Linked DNA regions of Homo sapiens. The protein of the gene in region 2 interacts with the protein of the main gene of each other region in a pairwise test. Each region holds a gene or a part of one and is shown on either strand. Other genes may lie near its edges.

What was found. The genes of interacting proteins can lie anywhere in the genome.
Region 1: the proteins of MPZ (region 2) and PINX1 interact in a two-hybrid assay, tested with the Homo sapiens proteins (one large-scale study listed by IntAct).

What each region holds. Positions count from the first base shown.
Region 1 is NC_000008.11:10,829,876-10,833,375, reverse strand, and holds part of PINX1 (PIN2/TERF1-interacting telomerase inhibitor 1), read left to right. Parts: intron 1-391; coding exon 392-484; intron 485-1,632; coding exon 1,633-1,711; intron 1,712-3,500. UniProt on the Homo sapiens protein: Microtubule-binding protein essential for faithful chromosome segregation. Mediates TRF1 and TERT accumulation in nucleolus and enhances TRF1 binding to telomeres. Inhibits telomerase activity. May inhibit cell proliferation and act as tumor suppressor.
Region 2 is NC_000001.11:161,307,662-161,311,618, reverse strand, and holds the start of MPZ (myelin protein P0 isoform MPZ precursor), read left to right. Parts: upstream 1-1,650; 5' UTR 1,651-1,683; coding exon of another isoform or gene 1,684-1,713; coding exon 1,714-1,780; intron 1,781-3,957. UniProt on the Homo sapiens protein: Is an adhesion molecule necessary for normal myelination in the peripheral nervous system. It mediates adhesion between adjacent myelin wraps and ultimately drives myelin compaction.

The DNA of each region.
Region 1 (3,500 bases), on a different chromosome or scaffold from region 2:
AAAGACCAGTGGTTTTCCATTGTCTTTAAAATAAAATCCAAATTCCTCCCGTAGGTTATGTGAGATCTAGCCCCTCCGTCATCCTACTTCCTTCATTCCTTAATTTGCAGAAGCCACCCTGGGTGCCTCTGAGGTTTCCCAGTACACTGAGTTTTTTCCCACCTTCGGGTCTTTGCACTTGATCTTTCCTTACCTGGAAAATCTTACAGATGAGTGCTAATTGATGCAGAGGACTTAGAGTCCTCCCCCATGTTGCTTTGTGAAAGTATTTAATGGAGAGAATCATCAACTCAGAACACCTGCCGTAGGCATCTGTGAGTTTTGTAGCAGTGCTCTGCTTCTGAGTATCAGTGAGAGGAATGTTCTAACTCTCTGTGTTTAATCTCCACAGGGTTTAGGGGCTCAGGAGCAAGGAGCCACAGATCATATTAAAGTTCAAGTGAAAAATAACCACCTGGGACTCGGAGCTACCATCAATAATGAAGTGAGCAGCAGTGTGTGCCTCCTGGGTGTCTTTGCATAATTGGCTTCAGTCTTGTAAATCTGAAAGTTGATTGGTTCATCTGCTTCTGACCATTGGTGCAGCACTTCTTTTTATTCACGTTTCCTCTTGAACACTGACGCTTTGAATGCATGGCACTATAACTCAGAGTCAGTGGCCTACCGCGCTTTTTATTTTTAGTATCATTGTTCCCTTTTGGAAAGGATCTAAACTGAAAAGTTTTGTTTCTAAGTTTTTGCAGCCAACATAATCTGGTAGGGAATCTGGGAAATTACTTTAGGTAAATTGAATTACTTTGGTTAGTTCCGTATCTCTGAGTAGTGGATTGGCGGAGCTAAAATTTTTAGCCACTAAAGAAAGAGTTTATATAAAGTTGATTTCAAATGTAGTTGTTGAGGGATAGATAACACAGATATACTTATTTTCTTAGAAGAAGCATTGCCCAGTAAACCTATTTCATATTCCTTTACCTTAAGCATTCTTAAAAATTGCTAAGAATGTGAGTAAGGCAGATTCGTACACTGAAACCCTGCTTCCCACTGGTTTGGGAGATCTTCATTCTCTTATAAAAGCCAGGTTCATTTTTTTATAATAAACTTATTAGGTAACCACCTTACAAATGGGAACTCATCGATTCAGGGGACTTAAGGTTCTTCCTCCTCCCCTTCCTCAGAGTTTTGTAAAATTGGAGTTGATGCAAGTCATTAGAAGATTTTAATTCTACCAAGCAAAGAAGAGCATTTTTTTGTCCCGCATGGTTCTTGTCCTTTCAACTATGGAATTTCCCCTAGTGAGAAAAAAATAGTCATTTCATTATGTTTTACTTTAACATTTAGCACACAGGTTGCCTGTTGATTATTTACTATATATTGACTTGATCGATAAGTCATTCACATTTGAAATCAGGCCTTAAGCTTCCAGGAAGCCCCTTTTTAATATTGACCTGGATAAAGAGCATTTTAACTTTATATTATTTCTTGAATCCACTTAAATTTATCAAATAGTATTTTGATGGAACATTTAAAATTTCTTAATTAACCACTGGATTTCCTTGATTCCAAAATGTATCATCTCAGTCAGTGTAAGTAAACTACAGGCTTACCTCTCGTTCATTTCTTTGATATTTTCAGGACAACTGGATTGCCCATCAGGATGATTTTAACCAGCTTCTGGCCGAACTGAACACTTGCCATGGGCAGGAAACCACAGGTAGGGAAATCAGATGACATAAGTTCTCAATGCAAATATGTTTATCTACTTTTTGTTTTTTGCTTTTATTATTTTTAGTTGACACATAATTATACATATTTATTGAGTATAGTGTGATATGTCAATACCTGTGCACAATTTGTAATGTACACATGTGTTATGTTCATCAACGTAATTAGCATATATATCACTTCAGACATTTATTATTTGTGTTGGGAGCATTTAAAATCTGTTCTTCTAGCTATTTGAAAATATAAAATAAAATATTATTTATTATAGTCACCCTACAGTGCTATAGAACACTAGAGCTTTTTCCTCTTATGTAGTGGGACTTTTATATCCATTAGCCAATCTTTAGCTGTTCCTACATAGCTGTTTTCCTTACGCAGCTCTAATAACCACTATTCTGCTGTCTACTTTTATGAGCTCAACTCTTTTAGCTTTTCCATATGAACGAGAATATGTGATATTTATCTGTGCCTGGCTTATTTCACTTAATGTCCTCCAAACTCAACCATGTTGCCTCAAATGAAAAACTCTCATTCTTTCGTAAGGGTAAATAGTATTCCGTGGTGTGTATGCACCACATGTTTCCCAGTTCATGTGTTGGTGGACACTTAGGTTGATTCCATATCTTGGCTGTTGTGAATAGTGCTGCAGTGAACGTGGGTTTGCAGGTACCTCTGCAACATGCTGATTTCCTTTCCTTTGGGTAATGCCTGGGAGTGGATTGCTGGATCATATAGTAGTTCTATTTTTAACTTTTTGAGGAGCTGCCGTACTGTTTTCTGTAGTGGCTACATCAACAGTGCATAAGAGTTCCAATTTCTCCATATCCTAACCAGTAATTATCTTTTATAATTTTGATAATAGCCATCCTAATGGGTGTGAGATGATGTCTCATTGTGATTTGGATTTCCATTTCCCTAATGACTGATGTTAAGCATCTTTTCATCGCTTATTGGCCATTTTTATATCTTCTTTGAAGAAGTGTCTAAGTACTTTGCCCATTTTTTAATTGGATTTTGTTGTAATCTGCAAGCATTTTTATAAACATTCTTGTTTATGAACAGTCTATTCCTTGTGTGTCATGTGTGAATAATCAAAAGATATTTGGTAGATTGAAAGAATTTTGTGGAGTGAAATAATGAATTAGACTTGAGTTCAGCAAACATTTATTGAGCTGTGTGCTGGGTACTAGTTTAGGTGTGAGGATCTGCAGAGGTATAAGACACAGTCCTGCTTGGAGGTAGCTAGCAGAATATGCTGGTAATTACCTGGTAAAATCACAGCACACATCTAACCATAGGAAGGTTTATTGCAGTGACGTGTGTGGAAGTGAGCCCAACAGTGTGAAGGGAAAGGTGCTTTGTTGGTATTTTTTCTAACCAGATTGGACTTTTTGTTGGAATGTATAACTTGGACAGTTTTCCTTATCCATAGGATCATGATTTTGAAATAACCTAACAGTTCTGTGTGTGGTCCTAATATGAAGGGCAATAATTTATTAGCAGAAGAAAAAGATAAGGAAAATGTTTTCTGAAAATACTGAATGACTCATATTAGGAAATGCAGGATCTATGAAGTAGTAAAGTTCAAGGACACTATTCCTTACTAATTATACACAGAAAACATCTTGATATTTACGATCACAGTTGAACTCAGTAGAAACACAGATAAGAATGTAAGCTTGGCTGGGCACGGTGTAATACCAGCACTTTGGGAGGCTGAGGCGGGCGGATCACCTGAGGTCGGGAGTTTGAGACCAGCCTGACCAACATGGAGAAAC
Region 2 (3,957 bases):
TTCTTTCACCTGTCATTTAAGGCCTTTCACAAACTGGTTTCGACTTTCCTGTCCAGTCTCATTTCTGACTATGCCACTTCAAGTTTCCCCAAATCAAGTCAAAGTGGATGGCACAAGATCGGCCCTGAATATATCCAACACTTCAGAAACCTACATCTCATATACATACACACACACACACACACACACACACACACACACACACACACACACACACACATTCTGTCTCTCCGTCTCACCTCTTTGTCCTTGCTTTTGCTGTTCTATCTTCTGGTAACCCTCCCTATCTCCCTTTCCAAAATGACAGTCATCCTTCAAGGCTGATTCATATCTAACATTGCCTCCTAGACACAACTATTCTTCCCTCTGAACTATTTATTTGTTTGATTATTTATTTATTTATTTATTTTTGAGACAGAGTTTCATTCTGTAGCCCAGGGTGGAAAGCAGTGGCACAATCATAGCTCGCTGCAGCCTTGATTTCCCAGGTTCAAGCGATCTTCCTGCCTCAGCCTCCCAAGTAGCTGGGACTACAAGCATGTGATAACATGCCCAGCTGATTTTTTAAAAAATTTTGGTAGAGGCGAGGTCTTGCTATGTTGCCCAGACAGGTCTCAAACTCCTAAACTCAAGCAATCCTCCTGCATAAGCCTACCAAAGTGCTGAGATTACAGGTGTCAGCCACTATGCCTGGCATAAACTTCATTTATTAAAGTTTATTTTGTCTTTAATCTCTCATATAACTTAGTCTTCCTGATATTGCAGCTGTGTGTGCCCCTCTTTTGTACTCCCAGCATTTTGTTCATTACTAAAGGAAGTGTCATGGCTTATTATACTTGATTGTTGATGGGTTTGTCCTCTGATCTTCCCATCTCCACCTCCCCAAACCAAATTTTCAACTCCTTGCTGGAAGGACTTAATTTTTATTCCTCTCTCTATTACCTGCATTCTCATACTTTACATATTGCTGGCACTTAATACAATTTTGTAGCCTTGAAATAAATTGAAATGGACTTAAACAGCAGCATGAAGCACTGAAGGACTTCTTGACAAACGGAAAGGTCAGGGGCTTCTTGCCTGGAAATAGTCCAGTGGAGAAAAACTTCTGTCTGGGAAGAATCGCACAGGATGAAGGGAGGTGCGGGGAAAAAAACTCCCATAGGACTTGGTCATCTCAAGAAGTCTGTAATGCAGCCCACATTAGAGGAGATAACAGGGGATATCCTATTTTCAGAGTTCTCTGGGGGAAACCTCCCTCTAGTTCCTAGGGCTGTGAGGCAGCCTCTCTCAGGCAAGGAGGCTGAGGAGAAATCCCTTTTTATGGCCTTTAAATTGAGGTTCCATATCTATCCCTCAGAGAAGTGTGTCTGTGTCCCTGTTTTTGTCCCTCTCCCTCACCACCCCCCACAACATTCCAGCCTGGGGCAGGGGGAGGCCAGTGGACACAAAGCCCTCTGTGTATGGGGTGGTATGTGTCCCCCCACCCCTCCACCCAGACTATACAATGCCCCTTCTGCTCCCTGCACTCTGCCCCCCTCCCCACCACCTCTCAACTGCACATGCCAGGCTGCAATTGGTTACTGGCTGAGGACAGCCCCCTCATGCTGGGGCCCTAGGGGATTTTAAGCAGGTTCCAGGAACCCCCCGTTCAGTTCCTGGTCCCCCACTTTCTCAACCCCACAGATGCTCCGGGCCCCTGCCCCTGCCCCAGCTATGGCTCCTGGGGCTCCCTCATCCAGCCCCAGCCCTATCCTGGCTGTGCTGCTCTTCTCTTCTTTGGGTAAGTGGAGCCACTCTACTCTGGGAGTCTTGGGACTCAGGTGTCTCTCAGCAATCCCCACAGCCTTTGCTGCACTCCCCACTGCAACCAAAGAAAGAACAAGCAGGAGCAGGAAGGTGACATTATATTCAGAAAGAAAAAATATGCGGCTGGGCATGGTGGCTCATGCCTGTAATCCCAGCACTTTGGGAGGCCAAGGTGGGATAATTATTTGAGCCCCAGGAGTTGGAGACCAGCCTGGACAACATAACCAGACTCCATCTGTAAAATTCAAAAAAAAAAAAAATATATATATATATATATGAAAAGAAAAAAATATGCATTTAGAGGGAGGAAGTAGAGGTTTTATTTTAAAAGAAAGGGTAAAAGAGAGTGTAGCAAGCTTCCCTGAGTGGTGGCCATGGCTGGACCCAGGTTGGAAATAGTAGCATGCCCCCAGAGCCATGCTAACAGCCTGGTGGGAAGCAGTGTTAGATTACATAAAGAAATAGGCTCAAACACCTGGGTTTGGTTCCCACTCGTCCCCTAGCAGTGCAGGAGGTGCCTTAACCTTAGTTTCCCAGAAGGAAAAAGAGAGTGCGATCTAAGTAAGGAGCCCAGGTTTGTGGTCTCAGCTCCTCAGATTTTTTGTCTCTCTATGGCTCCTCACCTGTTGTGTGGGTGAATGGAGTGAGGTTCTATGAGATTCTGGGATCTTATCCCTCTAAAGCTGTCTTCCTTCATAAGCTGACCAGCCCTTTCCTTGCCCCCTGGCAGATGTTGGGTGAGTAAGAGGTCAAAGCAGGATTATTGGAATGGCCCCTTCCCTTCTCTGAACTGCCCTGAATCCTAGTGCAATGAGTGAGCCATAGGCAAGTGGGGGTGGTGGGGAGGACATCAAGGGAAAGGGGGCTGGCCAGAATGCCCAGGGTTCTCTGCTGTCAGCTGCTTGAGCCCTAGACTCTTCTGGGTTGTACTGGGCTATTTGGGGGTACCCTGAGAAAATGTTAAAGATAGAGAGTTGGAGAAGGGCATAGTGAGGGAAATAGGGGGAAGGAATCTTGATGTATAAGGAAGAGGGAGAGTTGTGTCTCAACACTTGTTCCACTCATAGAACCATTGAGCACAGCTGAGAAGGGCAATGGTTGATATTGTAACAGGAGGAATAGAAGTTAGAGCCAGTGAATTATCTCCCTTGTTAAACAAGGGGGATTCCCAAGAAGGTTCTAAGGTGGAAGTTCCAGAAGGTAAGTACATGGTATTGCATGCTGAGGTGAGAGATTCAGGACAGTTGGGGTGGGAGTAGGGGTGGCATGAGCCCCCCAGCGTTGGTCAGACAATGGAACTTTGTTTGGTTGCCACCTCCCCCTCCTGTAGAACAAAAAGGTCTACAGTTGCCCCTCCCTGGGGCCAGCCCACACACATAGTCTCTCTGGAATGACCTTCCTTGTGTGGGTAAGTCTTGGGGATGGCACTGGGCCACAGTGGCCAAGAGGAAGGTGAGGACAGTTGAACCATAGAGGGCTCACATGTAGGGTCATCTGAGCTGTAGGCTTGGGGTGTTGCTCTGCACCCAGCTGAGAGGGGTATGAGGCCCTTCCCTTCCTGACTCTCCAGTCAAGAGCAAGCTGTATGGCAACCAGGGATTCAGCAATGAGGACAGTTGTGCCAGGGAAGAAGACTTATATTTTCTAGTTATCTTCATTTTTTTCTGCAAGAAATCTGAGTTTGCTGTATTGTGAAATCCAATGCAGCTGTTAAAATAAGATTGATATCTATGAATCAACAGGGAAAGCTCCTCCAGATACGTAAGTTCTTAAGCAAAAAGACACTAGAATACAATGCAATATGTATGTGGAAAAAAAAACTCCACAAAACTATTTGTTGTAAGTATGTGTATATCTTGAGTTTATTGAGTTTATACTGAGTTTGATTCATATTAAATGGATAACTTGTTACATCTTGGAAGGGAATACAGGAAAGGAATTTGTTGGGCTAAGTGTCAAAGGAGACTTTTGTTTTATTTCTATTGCTTGAATAGTTTATAAGAAGAGTACAATATGTATTACCTGTATAATTTATAATAAATTTTAAAAATTTAGAACACTGCATCTAAAGGATAGCTTAAAAGTTAGATACTGACCCAAAGGAGAAGTGAGACTTAAAGACAGAACCCAATCTCTGGAAGTCCTCAAGAG